Linked DNA regions of Homo sapiens: regions 2 and 3 are each linked to region 1. Evidence: fine-mapped expression QTL. A gene starts in region 1. Each other region holds a variant in brackets. All regions are shown on one strand. Distances are from middle to middle.

What was found.
Region 2: its variant is fine-mapped to the expression of LASP1NB in blood mononuclear cells (TOPMed, PIP above 0.99).
Region 3: its variant is fine-mapped to the expression of LASP1NB in whole blood (TOPMed, PIP above 0.99).

What each region holds. Positions count from the first base shown.
Region 1 is chr17:38,924,014-38,926,767 of GRCh38, forward strand. It overlaps LASP1NB (LASP1 neighbor), which reads left to right and starts at 1,601. Exons shown (of 2, transcript NM_001414697.1): 1 at 1,601-1,878; 2 at 2,404-2,754. The coding sequence starts at 1,681. The coding sequence ends at 1,758.
Region 2 is chr17:38,997,100-38,999,853 of GRCh38, forward strand. No RefSeq gene overlaps it. Among named protein-coding and RNA genes, the nearest start is that of LINC02079, 29 kb to the right of the region's middle. The variant A/T (reference allele first, on the strand shown) is at 1,136.
Region 3 is chr17:38,869,012-38,871,765 of GRCh38, forward strand. It overlaps LASP1 (LIM and SH3 protein 1), which reads left to right and starts at 1,047. Exons shown (of 7, transcript NM_006148.4): 1 at 1,047-1,247. The coding sequence starts at 1,179. It overlaps TRC-GCA4-1 (tRNA-Cys (anticodon GCA) 4-1), which reads right to left and starts at 352; the gene lies at 281-352. RefSeq lists silencers at 777-1,086, 1,607-1,706 and enhancers at 1,147-1,296, 2,309-2,754. The variant G/C (reference allele first, on the strand shown) is at 1,531.

The DNA.
Region 1 (2,754 bases):
GAAGGAGTGGGTGGAGGAGGGGTCTCTGGTGCTCGTCCTGTAGGTGGATCGATGTGAAAGCAGTCCACTGCAAGCTGAGCAGTGCACGTGGGGTGTAGGGGCCTTCCGGACCAACAGGGGGAGCAGTGTGGCGCAAGAGGAAGAATATGGACTTTGGTGTCAGCATGCCTAGTTTTGAATCCTGGTCTCTGACATTTTTAATTAATTAATTAATTATTTTGAGACGGAGTTTCACTCTTGTTGCCCAGGCTGGAGTGCAATGGCACAATCTCAGCTCACTGCAACCTCCACCTCCCAGGTTCAAGCGATTCTCCTGCCTCAGCCTCCTGAGTAGCTGGGATTACAGGCATGTGCCACCATGCCCAGCTAATTTTGTATTTTTAGTAGAGCTGGAGTTTCTCCATGTTGGTCAGGCTGGTCTTGAACTCCTGACCTCAGGTGATTCACCTACCTCAGCCTCCCAAAGTGTTGGGATTACAGGCATGAGCCACCACACCCAGCCTTTTACTTTTTATTTTATTTATTAATTTATTTATTTTTGAGACGGAGTCTCGCTCTGTCACCCAGGCTGGAGTGCAATGGCACGGTCTCAGCTCACTGCGACCTCTGCCTGCCGGGTTCAAGCAATTCTTTAGCCTCAGCCTCTTGAATAGCTGGGATAACAGGCACCTGCCACCACGCCCGGCTAATTTTTATTTTTATTTTTTTTTTGAGACAGAATCTTGCTCTGTAGCCCAGGCTGGGGTGCAGTGGCGCGATCTCAGCTCTGCCTCCCGGGTTCAAGCAATTCTCTGCCTCAGCCTCCCAAGTAGCTGGGATTACAGGCATGCACCACCAAGCCTGGCTAACTTTTGTATTTTTAGTAGAGACAGGGTTTCACCATCTTGGCCAGGCTGGTCTTGAACTCCTGACCTTGTGATCCACCTGCCTCGGCCTCCCAAAGTGCTGGGATTATAGGCATGAGCCACTGCGCCCGGCTGGTCTCTGACACATCTAAGCTATGAACCATTAGGGTAAGTTTCTGACCATCTCTGAGCCCCATCTATGAAAGACTCATAGGGAGGTTGAAATTGCACCACATGTACGATATCTGGCCCAGTGTAGGAAATGTATAAATGTTAGCTTCATCCCTCAGGGAAGCCCACTGAGATCCACACGAAACTTTTGTCTGTGTCTCCCCATAATGTGACCTTTAGAAGTTGCCAATGGCCCACCCAATACCCAACCATGATTTTTCTGAGATAATCTGCCCGAGGTGTGTGAGAGGAAACGCGAAGAAGGCAGTCAGGAGGATTCACTCTTGGGGGAGCTGGGTAGGATCCTATCTCCTCCTACATCCAGAGCATGCAGGCTCCATTTAGATACAAAGGGGTGGGATTGGGTTCCTGGGGAGAAATTGAGCCCCTTTGATTCTGCGGTTCTGTGGGTCTAAATCTGGCATCTCCTTGGCTATCCACCCCCAGGCTTTGTGATTGGTTGGCTGTGGTTGGTGGGGGGGCAGGAAGCTGCTGGTGGAGCTGCAGCATCCTTCAGTCTCAGGCCCCTGGGAGGGGGAGGGGAAAGAACCAGGGCTGAGCTGTGGAGTGAAGGGGAGCCATTTCTCTCCACCGACTGCAACCTCCGTGCTCACAGCTCACGGTTCACCAGAATCCAGGGGCTTGGTCGGCCTAGGAATCCACAATGCTGGATATTTTCATCCTGATGTTCTTTGCCATCATAGGCCTGGTCATTCTGTCCTACATTATCTATCTGCTCTAGTGGCCTGGAGCTGCGGCCGGAGCCTGCTGGAGAACAGCTCAGAAGGAAGGATGGAGATGAATGGCCGAGTGCCCTGCTTGCTGACGCACCGGTGGATTTTTGCTTCTGCTGTTATCTCGGGTATTGATTCCAAAAAAAAAAGAAAAGAAAAAAAGAAAGAGTTTGCTTTCCTATTTTTTTTCTTAGACCACTCTGAAAAGAATAAGAAATGCCAGCTTCTTTCTTTGGGACCTAATTTAAAATAAGACTTTAAAAATTACAAATAAAATCCACAATGTAAACGATTTTTAGGCAGAACGGGTTGGGAATGATGGATGTGGTGGGGAGGGACTATTATTTCCTAATTTCTTCTTCAAGTTAGGTGCTCAAACTCAAGTTGTCTATTTTCTTCTGGTAATTAAAGGTAAAACACATCTTTGCATGTCAGCATACTTGCAATATAGTTGTTTACAACTATGCTTGTATAATTGCATTACTTAATGATTGACTCATTCTTATTTGAGGGTGAGACGGCAAATAAATTTTACTTGGGGTGGGGTTTTCGGGGAGATGTCCAACTGTGGGATATGGTGGAGAGGAGGGAGGAACTCCTGGTACTTTGCAGTTGTCCCCATCTGAGACTTTTTATTTCTGGGTTTCTTACAGCTCCTGGTCTCTCCAGTCCAACAAGAGGCCTCTCATCCACAGAAGCAGTCCTACTGCCCAGCAGACCTCTTTCAGAGCCTTCCAGACATGGCTGACCCCTGGCAAGCAAGGGGCTTTTTGAGCTGAGAGGCACTTGGCTGGGACTTCAGGAATTCATGGACAGGGCTGGCAGATACTGCATATGTTTGAGCTGTAGATGGGATTGAGAACAGAAAGTTGAAATGGAGACTTATTAAAGTTACCGTGGAGAACTGCTCAAAAATTCATTTTGAATTAAGGAAACTTAAATTCATTTTAAGTTTCCTTAGATCTAAATGCAACTGCACATTACACTCAAATATGTTCCTTCCT
Region 2 (2,754 bases), 73 kb after region 1:
TTTTATTGTTGCTCTTGAGAAATCAGCTGTCAATCAAATTGTTTCAGGCTGAAGTTTTCTGACTCTTTTGTCTGTTTCTTTTCTTTTCTTTTTTTTTTTTTTTTTGAGATGGAGTTTCGCTCTTGTTGCCCAGGCTGGAGTGCAATGGCATGAATCTCAGCTCACTGCAACCTCCACCTCCTGGGTTCAAGCAATTCTGCTTCAGCCTCCCAAGTAGCTGGGATTACAGGCGCCTGCCACCACGCTCAGCTAATTTTTTGTATTTTTAGTAGAGATGGGGTTTTGCCATGTTGTCTAGGCTGGTCTTGAACGCCTGACCTCAAGCAATCTACCCGCCTCGGCCTCCCAAAGTGTTGGGATTACAGGTATAAGCCACTGCGCCCAGCCTCTTTTGTCTGTTTCTAAGATCTAGTCTCTGTCTTCAGTGCTCTGCAATTTTATTATAATGTGTTGAAATGTGGATTTCCTTTTATTTCTGTTATGAAGTTACTGAGGTTCTTGAATCTGGGTATCTTATTTTCCATTTATTTTCTTTCTTTCCCTTCCTCTCTCTCTTTCTTTCCCTTCCTCTCTCTCTTTCTCCCTTCCTTCTCCCCTCCCTTCCCCTGCCCTCCCCTTTCTTTTTCTTTTTTTTTGACAAGGCCTTGCTCTGTTACCTAGGCTGTAGTGCAGTGGTGCAATCACAACTCACTGCAACCTCCACCTCCAGGCCTCAAGCAATCCTCCTGCCTCAGCCTCCTGAGTAGCTGGGACTACAGGCATGCACCACGACACCTGGCTAATTTTTGTGTTTTTGCAGACACTAGGTCTCACTATGTTGCCTAGGCTGGTCTCAAACTCCTGGCCTCAAGCAATCCTCCTGCCTTGGCCTCCCAAAGTGCTGGGATTACAGGTGTGAGCCCATAATCCCAGCAGTGAGATTACAGATACAGTGCCCGGCTCATTTTCCATTTATTTTTCTCACTGTGCTGTCATCTGCATCATTTCTTTCACTCTGTTTTCTCTGCTTTTTTTCACCCCTTCTTCCTCTGAACTGCCTTCTCTTTTCAGTTGTGTCTAACCTGCTATTAAATCTGTCCAATGAATTTAAAATTTTTATTACTATATTTTTCATCTCCAGAATTGTATTTTTTTT[A/T]AAAAAAACTGCTTGGTCATTTGTATATTCTTTTATTATTAATTCCATTTGTCTGTCTTTCTTTTTCTTTTTCTTTTTTTTTTTTTGAGACAGAGTCTTGCTCTGTCACCCAGGCTGGAGTGCGGTGGCACCATCTGGGTTCACTGCAACCTCCGCAGTCCCGGGATTAAGCGATTCTCCTGCCTCAGCCTCCCGAGTAGCTGGAACTACAGGCATGCACCACCATGCCCAACTAATTTTTGTATTTTTAGTAGAGACAGGGTTTCACCATGTTGGCCAGGATGGTCTCCATCTCTTGACTTCGTGATCTGTCCACCTCGGCCTCCCAAAGTGTTGGGATTACAGGTGTGAGCCACCATGCCTGGCCTCATTTTTATTTCTTAAAAGCTCTAAAATAGTAATTTTATGTCATGTTTCTGATAATTTCTATATCTACAGTCTTTGTAGGTCTGATTCTGCTGTCTATATTTCTGCTTCTTTTGCTCATGGTGCCTAGTTTGTTTCGGTTTTGTGATTTTTGATTCTGTGGTTATTTTTATCAAAACTATATGTGGGAATTTTTTGAGGCCTGAGATAAAGGTGGGTTCTTCTAGAGAGAATTGCATATGCTTCTTCTAGCACTTTAGGTACTTAGGACCACTTTGTTTTATTTTATTTATTTATTTATTTATTTTTGAGGTGGAGTTTCACTCTTGTTACCCAGGCTGGAGTACAGTGGTGCCATCTTGGTTCACTGCAACCTCCGTTTTTTGGGTTTAAGTGATTCTCCTGCCTCAGCCTCCCGAGTAGCTGGAATTACAGGTGCCTGCCACCAAGCCCAGCTAATTTTTGTATTTTTAGTAGAGATGGGGTTTCATCATGTTGGCCAGGCTGGTCGCAAACTGCCGACCTCAGGTGATCCACTTGCCAGGTGATCCACTTGCCTTGGCCTCCCAAAGTGCTGAGATTATAGGCGTGAGCCACCACACCTGGCCCTTAGGACCACTTTAAATTAAAATCTCTGCTGGAGGCTTTTCAGACGATTCGACCCTGTGAAACTAAACTGCAAATTGTTAGGACTAGCTTTTATATCTTTTTCAGGAGTTCTTTTTCACTTTTTTTTTTTTTTTTGAGATGGAGTCTTGCTCTGTCACCCAGGCTGGAATGCAGTGGCGCAATCTTGGCTCACTGCAAGCTCCGCCTCCTGGGTTCACACCATTCTCCTGCCTCAGCCTCCGGAGTAGCTGGGACTACAGGCGCCTGCCACCACGCCTGGCTAATTTTTTGTATTTTTAGTAGAGATGGGGTTTCACTGTGTTAGCCAGGATGGTCTCGATCTCCCAACCTCGTGATCCACCCGCCTCAGCCTCCCAAAGTGCTGGGGTTACAGGCGTGAGCCACCACACCTGGCCCTTTTTCACTTTTATGTAGTACCAAGAACCAAGGCCATTTTGGCTATAGCCCCTTGTGGTCAGATGTATTTCTAGTTTAGCCTAATAGTAAGGGTATAGCTTTAGGGTCTCACCTGTGTGAGAGAATATGCAATTAGAATCTCCATCTTGGGCAGACCTTGAGTTCTGTCTTCTGTCCCTGGAGCTCCTTAAGGTCTTAAAAACTGAAAGCTACTGGTTTGGCAATTG
Region 3 (2,754 bases), 55 kb before region 1:
CCGGCACCTCGAACTGTCTGACCCATCTGAGGCTGGCGCCCGTGGCCGCAGAAATCCCTACACCTCTGGCGCGAGTAATGCGGTCGCGCAGCTTTTATACCCACCCCCTCCTCCCGCTGAGCACAAAGTAAAACCGAAAGATTTCTGCTAAGGTTGAAAAATGAGGAAGATACTTTTTCTTTTCTTTTTTTTTTTTTTTTTAGTCAGGACCCAATGTTAAAATGTGAGTCAAGAATGAAAAACAGATGGTTAACAAGGGGAAGGAAAAACCAAGCCATTGAGGGGGCACCCGGATTTGAACCAGGGACCTCTTGATCTGCAGTCAAATGCTCTACCACTGAGCTATACCCCCGCGCCTCTACAGCGCCTGGAGGCGGCTCCTTGGGTGCTAAGCATTGTTGCAGCTGCTACACTGTGAGTAGTGGTGTAACAGAAGGAGAAAGGAATGCTGGAGAAAAAGGGGTCAAGCTGAACGCAGACGGTGCCCGCATCCGGGGAACCCCGGGAAGGTGCACTGCAGGGGCTCGAGAGGGAAGCACTAGCCCGGGCCCGGCAGCGCGCAGGGTCCAAGAGGGAGGGACGGGTTCCGCCCCACAAATGTGGGAAAGGGTGTGGGCCGGAAGAGAGCTAAGAGGGGCAGGGTAGGGGGTCCCCGTTCGGTCCGCAGATTCATGCCGGGTAGAAAGTCCCCGAATGCGGTGAATCAGTTCCAGCGTTCAGGAGGATCCAACCCCACCCTCGACGGGCTTGAGGGGTTAGCCCGCCTCCCGCAGCCCGGGCGCCCCAGATGTGCAGCCTGCTCGCCTCTGCGCCGCCTCCGGCTGGGGAAGGGCCCTGGGCACCGGGCGCAGTCAGCCTGAGAGCGCTGAGGCGCCAGCACCGCGGGCCCCGCCGTCCCCCCAGGAACCCGCCCCCGCGCAGCCCCACGTCGCCCGGAGAGCGCGCCTCGCTGCGCGTGCCCTTGCCCGCGCCCGAGGCGCGTGCCCGCCCCAGTGCAGCCCCTCCTCCCCGCTGTGTTTATTAGGGGAAGGAGGGCGGAGGCGGAGGCCAGTTCCCCAGCTCCAGCCGCCGTCGCTGCTGCCTGTGTAGTTGCAGCCGCGGCCGCCTCCCGCCAGCTCGCCTCGGGGAACAGGACGCGCGTGAGCTCAGGCGTCCCCGCCCCAGCTTTTCTCGGAACCATGAACCCCAACTGCGCCCGGTGCGGCAAGATCGTGTATCCCACGGAGAAGGTGAACTGTCTGGATAAGGTGAGCCCGGGACCGGGAGACGCGTCTTTGCAATCCCCCGCAGTGCTCCGAATCCAGGGAGGAGAGAAGGGCCGGGTCTTTGCCGCCTTATCCCCGCGATCCCAGGAGAATGGAGGGAGGGCGAGCGGGCGGTGTCATGGGGTGTGGGGACACATCCCAGTCTGAAAACCAGGAGATCTGGGGCGAGGCGGGAAGTCCACGCGTAGCGGGCAGCCGCTGCTGGAGAGGGGTGGGCTCTGTGTCCCGGGGTTGGGAGGACGGGAGAGGAGCAGGGAAGTCAGGC[G/C]CCGGGGTGTGTTGGGGGAAGGTTAGGGGTGCAGTCCCGCCCCCTACGGCCTGGAGAGTGAGAAGAGACGGCCGCTCCCTCTCCGCTCTGCGCCGAGCGCCAAGTAGGCGGAAGCGCGGGGCGCTGGTGGAGGGGGCGGGGGGGCGGGGCAGAGGCTGGGGGGCCCTGCAAAACCGTCCGCTCCGGCGGGGGTGGCCTGGCTTCCTGGCCTGGCGGGGCGGGGGCTATCAGCCTGCGAGTGTGTGGCATCTGATGCGGGGGGTTTTGGGTAAGGACCCGGGCTCTGCCGCAAGAGCCCCGTTTTTGAACGACCTGCACCCCCTTGGATTCAGTCGTTAAAGGACTCGCAGACCTCCTCCACAGCTTCCCAACCCCCACCTCCAATTAAAAGCCAACTCCCGGTGCTGGGCCGTCCAGCCTGAGCCGGGTGGGGTTGGGTGGCAGAGTAGGGTGGGTGGAGGGTGCTTAGCTGAGATCTCCTGAAATTGTGCTCAGAGCCAGGAGACCGTGTGGAAGAACAAAGAGCTAACTTTTCAAAGCAGGTTTCTCCAATGGAGGGTGGGGTTGGCTGAGTTCTGGGGAAGCCGAGGAAAGGGGGAGGTATTGGGGGGAGGGGAGGGTGGCCTTGTGGAGATTCAGTGTCCCCTGGGGGCCCTGTCTCCCCAATGCTGGACTTGTTCATCTGGTTGCCATTAGACTTTTGGAGGGGGGTTGGAGAGTAGAACTGGGTGTTTCCCGTACAGTTTAGGGTAGGATCCTGTTCTCTTGTAAGCTCCGTAAGATCCTAAGGTAAAACCTGCCCCTCTGCATCCCCTCCCCAGTCTGGAGGGGAGGCCTCTGTGATTTTGTGCCCTTCCTCACCGCGTCTTTCATCCACCACCCAAAGCTGGCTCCAAGTCCAAGTATTCTGTCCTTTCCATCTGAACTGGGAGGGCTGGGAGGACTGGATGGAAGAGAGGTGCAAGGGTGGGAACACTAGATGAAAGAGGGGTATAGAGCCCTGGGGCCAAGTTCATTACTGACCTGGAGCCAGGTTTTGTTCAGGAGAGGATAGTTTATTGGACACCTTATCTCTCCCCTCCCCCTTGGTGTGTGAGCTTCCTCAGTGACCTTTGGCCTCTGAGTCAGCGTGAGGAGGTGGGGTTGGAGGTTCTGAAAGATATTTGAACTTGCTCTTGGGGAGTGTGGGCATATGGGGCCGCTGCTGTGTCACTGTTCCTCCTG